4 linked regions of the Homo sapiens genome follow. The protein of the gene in region 3 purifies or fractionates together with the protein of the main gene of each other region. This does not show direct contact. Each region holds a gene or a part of one and is shown on either strand. Other genes may lie near its edges.

The links. Proteins that work in one complex are often made in the same cells at the same time.
Region 1: the proteins of SSTR2 (region 3) and TRIM44 purify together in Homo sapiens (co-immunoprecipitation; one large-scale study listed by IntAct). This does not show direct contact.
Region 2: the proteins of SSTR2 (region 3) and CELSR2 purify together in Homo sapiens (co-immunoprecipitation; one large-scale study listed by IntAct). This does not show direct contact.
Region 4: the proteins of SSTR2 (region 3) and PJA2 purify together in Homo sapiens (co-immunoprecipitation; one large-scale study listed by IntAct). This does not show direct contact.

The regions. Positions count from the first base shown.
Region 1 is NC_000011.10:35,665,775-35,669,274, reverse strand, and holds part of TRIM44 (tripartite motif-containing protein 44), read right to left. Parts: intron 1-3,500. UniProt on the Homo sapiens protein: May play a role in the process of differentiation and maturation of neuronal cells. May regulate the activity of TRIM17. Is a negative regulator of PAX6 expression.
Region 2 is NC_000001.11:109,256,039-109,259,538, forward strand, and holds part of CELSR2 (cadherin EGF LAG seven-pass G-type receptor 2 precursor), read left to right. Parts: intron 1-2,393; coding exon 2,394-3,041; intron 3,042-3,500. UniProt on the Homo sapiens protein: Receptor that may have an important role in cell/cell signaling during nervous system formation.
Region 3 is NC_000017.11:73,171,510-73,175,009, forward strand, and holds part of SSTR2 (somatostatin receptor type 2), read left to right. Parts: 3' UTR 1-3,500.
Region 4 is NC_000005.10:109,403,475-109,406,974, reverse strand, and holds part of PJA2 (E3 ubiquitin-protein ligase Praja-2), read left to right. Parts: intron 1-3,500.

The sequences.
Region 1 (3,500 bases), on a different chromosome or scaffold from region 3:
AAAGTTTGGTCCAAGAAACCTCAAGAAATTAATTTAGTAGAAGGGGATTCTAAACAAGTTGTACTCTCAGGCCTTAGCAGAATCAAACTCGAATCCTCTCTTGAAGTATGCAGCTTCATGCAAGATTTGGAAAAGTCCCATAAGCAGTTTTTAAAAGGCAATGAGAAGCTACACAGCTACACAGAACCCAGCACAAAAAGAAATAAAAACATGAAACATGAAAAACTAAAAACAGCAGCAAAAAGAGGTCCACAAAGTCTTCACATACTAGAATTATCAGAGGCAGATTATCAATCAATATGCCTACAGTTCTTAAAGGAATAGCTAAGACAGCTACAGAATGAAAAAAAAAGAATTATGATTCACAAATTTATACTAGCACATTTGAAAATTTACATAAAATGGACAAACGTCTGAGAAAATGTAACTTATCAAAACTGACCTAAGAAAAAATAGACAACCTAGACAGACCTATGACTATTAAAGAAATTGAGTCCATAGTCAAAAATACTATGTAAAACAATAATACCTAGCAATCCCATTACTGGGTATACACCCAAAGGAAAATAGATTATTTTATTACACAGATACACGCACGTGTATGTTCACTGCAGTGCTATTCACAATAGCTAAGACACTGAATCAATTTAAATGCCCATCAGTGATAGACTGGATAAAGAAAATGTGGTACATATACCATGGAATACTATGCAGCCATAAAAAGGAATCCGATCATGTCCTTTGCAGGGACATGGATGGAGCCAGAAGCCATTATCCTCAGCAAACTAATGCAGGAACAGAAAACCAAATGCTGCATCTTCTCACTTACAAGTGGGAGCTGAATGATAGAACATATGAACACATTGTGGGGAACAACATACACTGGAGCCTGTCAGTGGATAGGGGGTGGGAGGAAGGAGAGCATCAGAAAGAATAGCTAATGGATGCTGGGCTTAATACCTAAGTGATGGGATGATCTGTGCAGCAAACCAGCATGGCACATGTTTACCTATGTAACAAACCTGCACATCCTGCACATGTACCCCAGAACTTAAAAGTTTGAAACTAAAAATAATAAAATGTTGGTGATCAGTTAAAAAATGTAAAACCAAAAAACAAAACAAAAGAAAGCACCAACAATAAACCAACTCTCCCTTCCCCCTTCACTCTCTCCAGGAATAGATGGCTTCCATGGTCAGTTCTACCAATCAATATAGGAAGAAATATTTCAATCTTTCACAAATACTTCCAGACCATTAAAAGAGAGAAAGAATATATAAGAAACACTACACTCTGCCTCAGACTATGAAGCCAAACTTTGATAGCAAAATCCCATAAGAACAGTAAAAGAACAATGATAGGCCAATTTCTCCCATAAATATAAATGAAAAAAAACTACATAAATTATTAATAAGCCAAATCCAAAAACATAAGGCTACTTCATTATGACCAAGTTGGATCAAGGATATCCCAGAAATGCTAGTCTTTCTGCTTTAATTATAAAATACAACAATACGAAGAGATGAAAGTAAGACCATATATATGCACACACCTATATTTGCAGAAACACACACCTGAAGGGTAACCAAAAAACTAATAAAAATGGTTATTGGCCAGGAACAGCCTGTAATCCCACAGCTGTAGGAGGTTGAGGCGGGAGGACTGCTTGAGGCTAGGAGTTCAAGACCAACTTGGGCAACATAGCAAGACACCCATCTCTACAAAATAAAAAATAAATAGTTAGCCAGGCATGGTGGCACACCTGTAGTCCTAGCAACTCAGGATGCTCAGGTGGGAGGATTGCTTAAGCCCAGGAATTTGAGATTACAGTGAGCTATGCTCCCACCACTGCATTCCAGCCTGATCAACAGAGTAAGATCCTGTTTCTAAGAAAAAACAAGTAGTTACCAACAGCTGGTAGAAGAATCAGGTGAAAAGGACACAGGCTTTTGAGGTATATGAATGTATCACTGATTTTAAAAATTAACTTTAATAAGTAAATCAATTAATGTAATTCATCATCATAAAAGTGAAAGAGAAAATCACATGATCATCCCAAAAGATGCAAAAAAAGCATTTGATATTAAATAACCAATCAAAATTCAGAAAAACTTAGCAAACCAGGACTAGAATTTTTTTAAACTGATAAAACATATCTATTTTCAAAAACCATAGAACATATCACTTATTTGTGCAATGTTATCAATTACTGCTAGACTAGGAACAAGGCCAGAATACCCACCAACCACATCCATTCAACATAATACTCGGGGTGCTATCCAATGCAGTAAGGCAAGAAAAAACAAATAACAGATATAAGGATTGAAAAGAAACAAACAAAAAGTATCTCTCTTCACACATAATACAATCAGGTATGTAGAATAAATCTACAGATAAATTATTAGGATATGTAAGATAATTCAGCAGATAGATCACAAAAAAACAATATATAAAAGTTAATCATATTCCTATATTCAATTAGAAAACAAAACTTAAAACCATTTATTTTTATTTTAGAGATAGGGTCTTGCCGTGTCGACCAGGCTGGAGGGAAATGGCAGGATCATAACTCACTGCAGCCTCAAACTCCTAGACTGAAGCAATCCTCCCACCTCAGCCTTCCATATAGCTGACAGGTGTGAGCCACTGTGCCTGGCTCATATTTTCTACAATATTATAAAATTATGAAGTATCTAGGAATAAATTTTACAATGATGTGAAAAATCTTTGAGGAAAAAAATATAAAACTTAACTGCGAAGCAATAAAAAAGACCTAAATTAATGAATCAGAAGACTTCATGTTGTAATGATATTAATTCTCCCTATATTGGCTTATAAATTTAATATCCAAATACACTCCTGCAGGCTTTTTAATACTATGATTCTAAGAAATGTAAAGTGCCAAAACTGGCCAACACACTCTTGTAGGACAAGATGGAAGGACCTGCTTTACCAGATATTAAGACATATTATAAAGGGATAACTGAGAAAACATGCTGTTCACACAGGGATATACTAACAGATAAACAGTAGAGAACAGAAGAACCAAGAAACACATTCACACATATTATGGGCACTTGATATATGACAGTGGGACAGCAAATCAGTGCACAAAGGAAGGGCTTTTCAATAAATACAGCAATAGCAATTGGCCATCTGTATGGAGAAAAAATGAAATTGCGCCCCTACTTCTACTACACAAAAATCAATACTAAGTAGAACAAGACACAAAAAGCACTAACCATAAGGAAAAGTATTGATAAGTTTTACCACATTAAAATGAAGAGCTTCTATTCAAGGCACAACTTCTTTAAAAAGAAAAACCACATAGAAGATATTTGCAACCCACATAGAAAGAACAACAAAAAAAATCAGAAACAAATATATAGCTGGGCACAGTGGCTAACACCTATAATCCCAACACTTTGGCAGGCAGATCACCTGAGGTCAGGAGTTCAAGACCAGCCTGGTCAACATGGCAAAAACATCTCTACTAAAAA
Region 2 (3,500 bases), on a different chromosome or scaffold from region 3:
ATCAGTTATGGGCACTGTGTGTGGAGTCTTGGGCTGCTTTCTGCCTGGAGGGAATATCCCGTCAAGGAATCATTAGGCAGATATACCAGGTATACAAGAGCTCTGTGCCAGCTGAGCATCCTGGTGCGGGGAAGTCTGAAACGGAGAGGAAAGTAGAGCCTGATGACATAAATCTGGGCAGGCTTCCTGGAGCAGGTGAGCTAGGGCAGGTTAGAAGACTCAGAGGACTGTGGGCTGGTGTCTGGGTGGGAAGGAACAGCCTGTGCAGCAGCTTTGAGACGAGAGCAGGAGGAACAGAAGTGGGTGATGACAAGCAGGCTTGCTGGTGAGAGCTAGTGAGAATAAGCAAGTGATGAGGCTGGAGGGTAGGTGGGCAGTCGGCTGAGGACATGGCTGAGATGGGGGTCTGCTTTCAGCCTTCCCGGCTTCAGCTGAGCCACCGCTGGTACAGTCAGCCACCGCAAGTAGGTACAACACAGATGCAGAATTTGTTCCCATGTCCCTTGCCTACTCCCACCCCACCCCAGAAACATGGGCTCCTGCCCCGTTACTGCTAGGGTAAGCATTTGCTTTTTATATCTAGTTGGGCTCCCCCTGCTATGTGGTTTTGTTTGTTTGTTTGGGACAGAGTCTCACTCTGTCACCCAGGCTGGAGTACAATGGCGCGATCTCGGCTCACTGCAACCTCTGCCTCCTGGGTTCAAGCAATTCTCCTGCCTCAGCCTCCTGAGTATCTGGGACCTCCTGAGTAGCTGAGATTACAGGCACCCACCACCACGCCCAACTAATTTTTGTATTTTTAGTAGAGACGGGGTTTCACCATGTTGGTCAGTCTGATCTCGAACTCCTGACCTCGTGATCCACCCGCCTCAGCCTCCCAAAGTTCTGGGACTACAGGCGTGAGCCACTGCGCCCGGCCCCCTGCTATGTTTTAAAGTCCGTTTATTCTTTGTGGAGACTGAATAGATTGTCATCCACATCTCAGTGTTTTCTGAACACCTACTATGTGTAAGGCATTGTAATAAATACAAATATGAATATGCCAGTAGCTCATGCCTGTAATCCCAGTGCTCTAGAAGGCTGAGATGGAGGATCACTTGAGGCCAGGAATTTGAGACCAGCCTGGACAACACAGCAAGACCCCATCTCTACACACAAACAAAAATTAGCCAGGCATAGTTGTGAGCACCTGTGGTCTCAGCTATTTGGGAGGTTGAGGTGGGAGGATCGCTTGAGCCCAGGAGTTCGAGGCTACAGTGAGCTATGATCGTGCCACTGCTCTCCAGTGTAGGCGACAGAGAGTCTGTCTCTTAAAAAAAAAAAAAAAAAGACTATCCCTTCTTGCCCTGTAAAGCCATTTCCTCCTTCTCCAGGCCCCAGCTTTCATTTTTTAGCTAAATAAAATTCATTCCCATGTGTATGTGCATTCAGGTGTGTATGGTATTTCTGGGCTTAGGGTGTGTGGGTGGAATGAGACACCAGCAAGTGTGTTTTAGTGCTTAGCTGTTTATAAGTGAGTGTGTTGCCTGGGGGCATAGCAGGCATTTGGGTGTAATGGTTGAGCCAAGTGGGTGATGAGTAGCTAGAGGCCCTAGGACCAGAGAAGAGACTGACTCAGTGGGGCTCTGGGGTCTCAGAGTGGAGAGCTGCCCAGGCCCTTCTATCTCTGCCTTCCGGTCCCCCACCCCGACTCACCCTGTCTCCAGCATGGGGCAGTGGGTGATGATGTCACTGGTTAACGTGGCTCAGCTGGATTTCCTGGGGTGGGGCCCCCCAGGCTACCCACAGCAGCCCAGAGAGTTGGGCGGGAAGAATGCTTTGTGTTGGATGTTGCCATGGGGATAGCAGGTCTGCGCGCCCAAGCAGCCATGGGGCTCAGTGGGAGGGGGACTAGGTGGCCCACTGACCCAGTTTACCCACTCCCCCCCACCCCCGCCAACTCCCTGCTGCTGTGGGGGAGTGGGGAACACAGCCATGGTTGCGATTATCGTGGTGTTGAGGTGTAGAGGCTGAGGGGGCAGGGGGATGATTTTTGTGGGTCTCAGGATGCTCTGGGCCCTGTAGAAAAGTATGAAAAAGACAACATAGGGTTCCCGCGCAGGCAGCACAGACTCTGGGGGAAGGGAGCAGGAGCGGTGGCTTGGGCAGGGAAAGGTGCACAAACATTAAGAGGTGTGCCGTGCATCAGCGACAGAAGGTTTTGGGAAAGGATGCAAAGAGAACTGCAAATCTCATCCCCTGAGCCCTGAAGGAGTGATTGGCCCACACGTGACATACCTGGCTCAGCACCCTTATGCCAGTTGGAAAGGAGAGCCTTTCTTGGTGGGTGGTGCAGGAATATGCAGGCTGAATTGCAGCCCCAGGCTGGGTCCTGACTGTGTCCCTCTCCACAGACGGCGTACACAGCGTGACCGCCCAGTGCGCGCTGCGTGTGACCATCATCACCGATGAGATGCTCACCCACAGCATCACGCTGCGCCTGGAGGACATGTCACCCGAGCGCTTCCTGTCACCACTGCTAGGCCTCTTCATCCAGGCGGTGGCCGCCACGCTGGCCACGCCACCGGACCACGTGGTGGTCTTCAACGTACAGCGGGACACCGACGCCCCCGGGGGCCACATCCTCAACGTGAGCCTGTCGGTGGGCCAGCCGCCAGGGCCCGGGGGCGGGCCGCCCTTCCTGCCCTCTGAGGACCTGCAGGAGCGCCTATACCTCAACCGCAGCCTGCTGACGGCCATCTCGGCACAGCGCGTGCTGCCCTTCGACGACAACATCTGCCTGCGGGAGCCCTGCGAGAACTACATGCGCTGCGTGTCGGTGCTGCGCTTCGACTCCTCCGCGCCCTTCATCGCCTCCTCCTCCGTGCTCTTCCGGCCCATCCACCCCGTCGGAGGGCTGCGCTGCCGCTGCCCGCCCGGCTTCACGGGTGACTACTGCGAGACCGAGGTGGACCTCTGCTACTCGCGGCCCTGTGGCCCCCACGGGCGCTGCCGCAGCCGCGAGGGCGGCTACACCTGCCTCTGTCGTGATGGCTACACGGGTGAGCCAAGGGAGGGGACTCATGGGCCAGCCCTGGAAGGCTGACTGTGTGGTGCAGGCACAAATCAGGACAAATGCTGGCGGCTGCCTCATTCTCTTCCCGAGTGAGGTGCAGCTACACTGAGAGGTCATAAATCCGGCCTGCTCCCTGACAGCACCCCACTGAGGAAGGCAGTGCAAGGAGTGCTTCTCCCTGCTGTGCACAGGACACACAGGCAGTGCCATTGTGGGCAGAGCTGGCTCCAGAGCCAGTCGGCCTGTGTTCGTGTATCAGCTTTGCCGCTAGTAGCTGTGTGACCTTGAACAAGTTACTTAACCTTTCTGGCCCTCGGTTATTTGAAATGGAGATAATGACCGTACTTAGGTCATAAGTTGGTTGTGAGGATTAATGTAATTAATTTGATACTTGGAAACAGCTGGTGGCATGGAAGGTGTTGGCCTTGATTTAAGGGAACGCTGA
Region 3 (3,500 bases):
ATTGTTTTTATTTTTCAGGCCAGACATAGCTTCCTAATGAAAGAAAATGGAAATGTAATTCGACGACTCCTCAAAGGGGACTTTAGAGGACTTCATACAAAGCTGGGCATTAAGAAAACCACAATGCATGGCCGGGCGTGGTGGCTTACACCTGTAATCCCAGCACTTTGGGAGGCCGAGGTGGGTGGATCACCCGAGGTCAGGAGTTCGAGACCAGCCTGGCCAACATGGTGAAACCCCATCACTACTAAAAATATGTAAATTAGTCGGGCGTGGTGTCACGTGCCTGTAATCCTAGCTGCTCGGGAGGCTGAGGCAGGAGAATCACTTGAACTTGGGAGGTGGAGGTTGCAGTAAGCTGAGATTGTGCCACTGCACTCTAGCCTGAGCAACAAGAGCAAAACTCAGTCTCAAAAAAAAAAAAAAAAAAAAAAAAAAAAAAAAAAAAGGAAAACCACAATGCGTACTAAAGACCAGAAGACATTGTTCACAAAACAAAAGCACCCTCACCTGCCAATGAATATGCAGCGTGCAGGGGGTGTGGTGTGAGTGTTGGTGGGGCCCCACCTCTCGGAGATACTGCTGTGCTGCCTTCCTCACTGACTGTATACATAGTAACTGTCATATCTTTAATGCCATGGACTCACTGAGCCGCTCTGCAAGGACTATTGTAGACAGGCACTTCACACCATAAAGTGGCATTTTTTTCGTTCCCCAAACTGACATTTACAAGCGATAAGAAAAGAGACAATATCCATTTCATTGACTGATCATTTTCTAGAGTATGAAGAAATACACACCTGGGTGTCTGCAAGGATGTCATCATCTTTGGGTTTCATCTGAGAGCATCACTCAGCATCTCACACATAGATGTTACCATATTTTTAAATGAGCTTTCCTCATCCGGCTCCCTAAGCAAGCGCTGTTGGCCGGTGGGAGTGACTAAGTGCTCCACCTGTGGGTGTCCTTCTTAATGTGCTGCTTTTGTTCTGTATAAATTCACACCACCTCACTCCCAAAAGTACTTCCTGTGGCTCAGAAAAATATGTTCAATAAGATTTTGGATAGATAAATCCATACAAAAATAAAAAGAGGTATAGTTATAAAACAAGACTACAGAAAAAGTTGTGGCAGAAATTGCATGCAGGAAAATCCCACACCATTAGTAAAAGTAAGGTCAACTGTAAGTTCAGCTCAGGGCTTCCTAGCAGCCATGTTTAGCGAAGTGTGATTTTTTTTTTTAAACAAAAACAAGCAAAGATTTGGAAGAAAATGCTTTAGACCTAACTTTACAATTATTATAACATAAGATGTTCCAGGGTCCTTGAATAAATGCTGAGTTTTAGGGAAATGATTCCAAGGGACCAAGAATTGGTAGAAATAATTTCAAGGCAGAGAAGACTAATTCTACAGGCCGGGCGTGGTGGCTTATGCCTGTAATCCCACACTTTGGGAGGCTGAGGTGGGTGGATTGCCTGAGGTCAAGAGTTCAAGACCAGCCTGGCCAACATGGTGAAACCCTGTCTCTACTAAAAATACAAAAAATTACCCAGGCATGGTGGCGGGCGCCTGTAATCCCAGCTACTTGGGAGGCTGAGACAGGAGAATGGCTTGAACCCAGGAGGTGGAGATTGCGGTGAGCTGAGATCGTGCCATTGCACTCCAGCCTGGGCAACAAGAGCGAAACTTCATCTCAAAAAAAAAAAACAAAGACTAATTCTATAGTACCCATGACCCTGCAACCAGAGAAACTGCCTGTAGGGAGGCCAGAGTCCAAAGCAGCCACCTGTAACCTGAAAATGAAACGCAGACCCAGGCATCTGTGGGTCTTCATCAGCAGGATGACCATTCTAAGGCTAAAAGACAGGCCTTTAAATCTGATGCTATAATTCCATCCAAATACACAGTTAGGTTTCTACCATAGGGAAAGCTATTCTCTACTTTTTGAAGTATCTGTTTCAAAGATAACTTGCTCTCTGGTTCTCTTTTATCTAAAAGAGAGAATCAACATGCTAATTTAAAGGTTAACATCATTTTAATTCAAAAATTTTAGTCTCCATTCCATATTTAATGATGAAGACAAATCTGCTGGGTGCTGGGAGGGAATAAAAAGTAATGCACCCCATTGATTTCAGAGTATCTGATCACTTGGGTTATGCAAGCTGCTACTTACCCGCCATTAGCATGGGTAGTTAAGTGCTGATTAAACCTAAGTGGACTCAGTGAAAAAGATATTGGGAAAAATAATATGATATTGTGGCCTATGTTGAATGATGTTAGCTTGTGTTTCAGTAACAGAGTTGGGTAATACTGGACGTGTAGATGAAGCTTTAGCAGGGCTGGGCACGGTGGCTCATGCCTGTAATCCCAGCACTTTGGGAGGCTGAGGCGGGTGGATTACCTGAGGTCAGGAGTTCAAGACCAGCCTGGCCAACATGGGGAAACCCTGTCTCTACTAAGAATACAAAAATTAGCTGGGTGTGGTGGCGTGTGCCTGTAATCCCAGCTACTCAGGAGGCTGAGACAGGAGAATCGCTTGAACCCGGGAGGCGAAGGTTGCAGTGAGCCAAGATCGCGCCACTGCACTTCAGCCTGGGTGACAGCACAAGACTCCATCTCAAAAAAAAAAAAAAAAGGAAGAAGAAAAAGAAACTTAAGTGGGGTTCATACATAGCATGGCAGAGGGACACTGGAGAATAAAATGGCATGCAGAGAGGAACACGCGGGCCAGTGGATGAGGCTTCTAGACCTGGCAGTGAACTGGAGTCTATTTGCTTACACAAATTTAACCTTCTCTCCATGATGGAATACAAGTGTTTCTTGCCAAAACTCGCAGCCCCAGCTGCCCTAGATGAGGAGCACCGTGCTGGAAAAGTGCACAGGCTGATCACAGAGACAGGTAGGAAGCAATGGACTGTTAAAATGCATGTTCCGGGCTGGGGATGGTGGCTCACACCTGTGATCTCAGCACTTTGGGAGGCCGAGGCTGGGGAATCGCTTGAGCCCAGGATTTTGAGACTAGCCTAGGCAATATGGTGAGACCCTGCCCTTAAAAAAAAAAAAGAAAAGAAAAGAAAAGAAAAAAAGATTCATATTCCTGATCAGCTCTGAATGTGACTATTCAATGAAGACAGTAAAGTTACAGTGTAAGGCACACATGACCTTTGGCCTTGCTAAAGAAGAGTGGCTGAAGGTCTAGCAAATTAATGCTTGTCTTAGGTTACCTGTTGATTTAAAAACAACAACAACAAAAACCCATAAAAATAGTAAAATATAAAAACAAATTAGTGTTTTATAGACCCTGGGGAAAAGAATTTTCAGCAAAGTACAAAAATTTAAAGCATTCCTTTCTTTAATTTTGTAATTCTTTACTGTAGAACAGCTCAAAATATCAGTTCTGTTTTAAGTAACAGAATTGATAACTGAGCAGGGAAACGTAATTTGGATTGTAAAATTCTTGCTTTAATAAAAATTCTTTAAACAGTCAAAATAGAAAGAAA
Region 4 (3,500 bases), on a different chromosome or scaffold from region 3:
TCTAGAATTTCATGTAAGTGGAATGATGTAATACATACTCTTTTGTATCTGGCTTTTTCTCTTGGCATGTTTTTCAGGATTATCCATGTTTTTCTGTATTTAACGGGTTCTCATTTTATTGCTGAATAGAAGTCCTTGGTATTGATTTACTAGTTTGTTGACCATTCCACCTATTTACAGATACTTGGATTGTTTCCAGTTTGGGGCTGTTATTAATAAATAGCCTTCATTTGTTGAACATTCCTTTATTCAATGAACATTCATTTATTTTGAATTTTTGTGAACATCTTTTTTTTCTTGGTAAATACCTAGACATGGAACTTGTTGGGTTGTATGATACATGGATGTTTATAAGAAACTGCCAAACTGTTTTCCAGAGTGGTTGTCACATTTTACATATCCATCAGCAGTGTATGACAGTTCCAATTGCTCCACATCATCCTCAGCACTTGGTTATTTCAGTCTTTTAAATTTTAGCCCTTTTAGTGGGTATATAGTAGTATCATACTGGGATTTTGATTTGCATTTACCAGATGACTAATGGTGCTGAGAATTTGCTCTAGTGTATGTCTTCCTTTGTGAAGTATCTGTTGACATTTTTTGCTCATTAAAAAACAAACAAACAACAATGGGTGGGCCTGGCGCGGTGGCTCACGCCTGTAATCCCAGCACTTTGGGAGTCCGAGGCAGGCGGATCACGAGGTCAGGAGATCCAGACCATCCTGGCTAACACGGTGAAGCCCCATCTCTACTAAAAATACAAAAAATTAGCCGGGCGTGGTGGCGGATACCTGTAGTGCCAGCTACTCCGGCTGAGTTAGGATAATGGCGTGAACCCGGGAGGTGGAGCTCGCAGTGAGCCAAGATCGTGCCACTGCACTCCAGCCTGGGCGACAGAGCGAGACTCCGTCTCAAAAAAAAAAAAAAAAAAAAATGGGTTTGTCTTATTGAGTTGTAAGCATTTTTTAATACATTCTTTATACAACTCATTTGACACACAGAGATACATAAACACACACACACACTGCAATCTGAAGCTTGTTTTTTTTTTATTTTCCTAACTTTAAAAGAAGAGCTTTTAATTTTGATAAATTCATCTTACCAACTTTTTCTTATGATTTGTGCTTCTGTGTTCTAAGAACTCTTTGCTTAATGCAAAGTTGTGCAGATTTACTCTTAGGATTTTTCTATAAGTTTTCTAGTTTTGGCTTTCATGTCAAGGCACATTATCCATTTTGGGTTAGTTTTTGTATATGGTGTGTAGTAAGGGTCAAGGCTCATTTTCTTTTCAAATGTATATGTAGTTCTAGCACCATTTGTTGGGACTACTTTCCTTTCCCCATTGAATTAACTTTGTCAAAAGTCAGTTGATCATATATGTAAATCTGTTCCTGTACTTTTCTCTTGATCTTTATGCCTATAATTTTGCCAGTACTGAGTTATCATGGTTATTTTTACTTATAAGTATTGAAATTAGGTAATATGAATCCTTGAACTTTATTCTTTTTCAAAATTGCCTTGGCTATTCTAACTTTACCGTAAAGCTTTTAGAGGCTGCGTGTTGGTTTCTACAAAAAGACCTGAAGGGATTTTAATTTGGTTTGTGTCGAATGCATAGATCAATTTAGGAAGAATCGACATCTTGAGTCTTCCAATTCATGAATACAGGTTGTCTCCATTTATGTAGGTCTTCTTTCATTTCCTTTGTCAGCATTTTGTAGTTGCAGCATGAAGATGTTGCTCATTTTGTTGGATTTATATCTAAGTATTTAATAATTGATACCATTATAAGTGATAATTTTCTTAAATTTTAGTTTCCAGTTATTCACTGCTATATGTAAAAATACAGTTGGTTTTTGCATATGGACCTTGATGCTTGCAACCTTGCTAAATTCATTCATTTGAGTAAATTTTTTGTAGATTCTCTGGAATTGTCCTATGTAGACAATCATGTTATTTGCAAATATAGATCAGTTTTATTATTTTTGAATTTATATGTAACTCCTTCCACCTTTTCTTCTTCTTAGACTGGCTAAGACCTCCATTATGATGTTGAATAGCAGTGGTGAAAGCAGATATCCTTCTCTGTTCCTGATCTTAAGAAGAAAGCTTTGAATCTTTCATTATTGAGTGTGATAGAGTGGTGCTATAGCTTGAATGCTTATGTCCCTTCCAAAATTCATAGCATTGAAACATAATCCCCATTGTGAGGGGGATCTCAAGGAGGTGATTAGGTCATGAAGCTTCTGCCTTCATTAATGGATTCGTGTGCTTATAAAAGAGGTCCCAGAGAGCTCCTATCCCCTTATGCCGTATGAGAACACAGTGAAAAAACTGCAGTCTGTGAACCAGGAAGTGGCTCTCACCAAACGCTGAATCTACCAGCACCTTGATTTTGGACTTCCCAGCCTCCAGAACTGTGAAAAATAAATTTCTTTTATTTTTATTTCTATTTTTTTTTGACAGAGTCTTGCTCTGTCGGCTAGGCTGGAGTGCAGTGGCAGTCTCAGCTCGCTGCAACCTCGGTCTCCCAGGCTCAAGCAATTCTGCCTCAGCCTCCCGAGTAGCTGGGATTACAGGCGTATGTCACCATGCCTGGCTAATTTTTGTATTTTTAGTAGAGACGGGGTTTTACCATGTTGGCCAGGCTGGTCTCAAACTCCTTACCTCAGGTAATCCACCTGCCTTGGCCTCCCAAAGTGCTGGAATTACAGGTGTGAGCCACCGCGCCCAGCCGAGAAATAAATTTCTGTTGTTTATAAGCCACTTCAGTCTATGGGAGCTTGTTATAGGAGTCCTAATGGACTAAGACAAGTGGCCTTTTATCATATTGAGGATGTTCCCATTCTATTCTTGGATTGCTGAGAGGTTTTTGTTGTTGTTGTTGTTGTTGTTGTTGTTTTTGAGATGGAGTCTTGCTCTGTTGCCCAGGCTGGAGGGCAGTGGCACCATCTCAGCTCACTACAGCCTCCGCCTCCTGGGTTCAAGTGATTCTTCTGCCTCAGCCCCCTGAGTAGCTGGGATTACAGGTACACGCCACCAAGCCTGGCTAACTTTTTTGTATTTTTGTAGAAATGGGGTTTTACCATGTTGGCCAGGCTGGTCTTGAACTCCTCACCTCGTGATCTGCCCGCCTTGGCCCCCCAAAGTGTTGGGATTACAGGCATGAGCCACTGCGCCTGGCAGAGAGTTTTTTTTTTTTTTTTTTTTAAATCATGAGTGGATGTTGATTTTAGTCAGGTATTATTACTGTATTTATTGAGATGATCATATGGTTTGTTTCTGTGTTAATGTGATGAATTACGTTAACTTATTTGCGAATGTTGAATCATCTTCCATTCTGTGGTTAAACCTCACTTGGTGATGGTGTATTATCTACTATCATTTTTATAAATTGGTGAAATTTTTTTTTTTTTTGCATCTATGTTCATGAAAGATACTTTTTCATATAATGCTGGTTTCATAGAGTTGCAAAGTGTTTCTTATATTTTTGAAAAAGA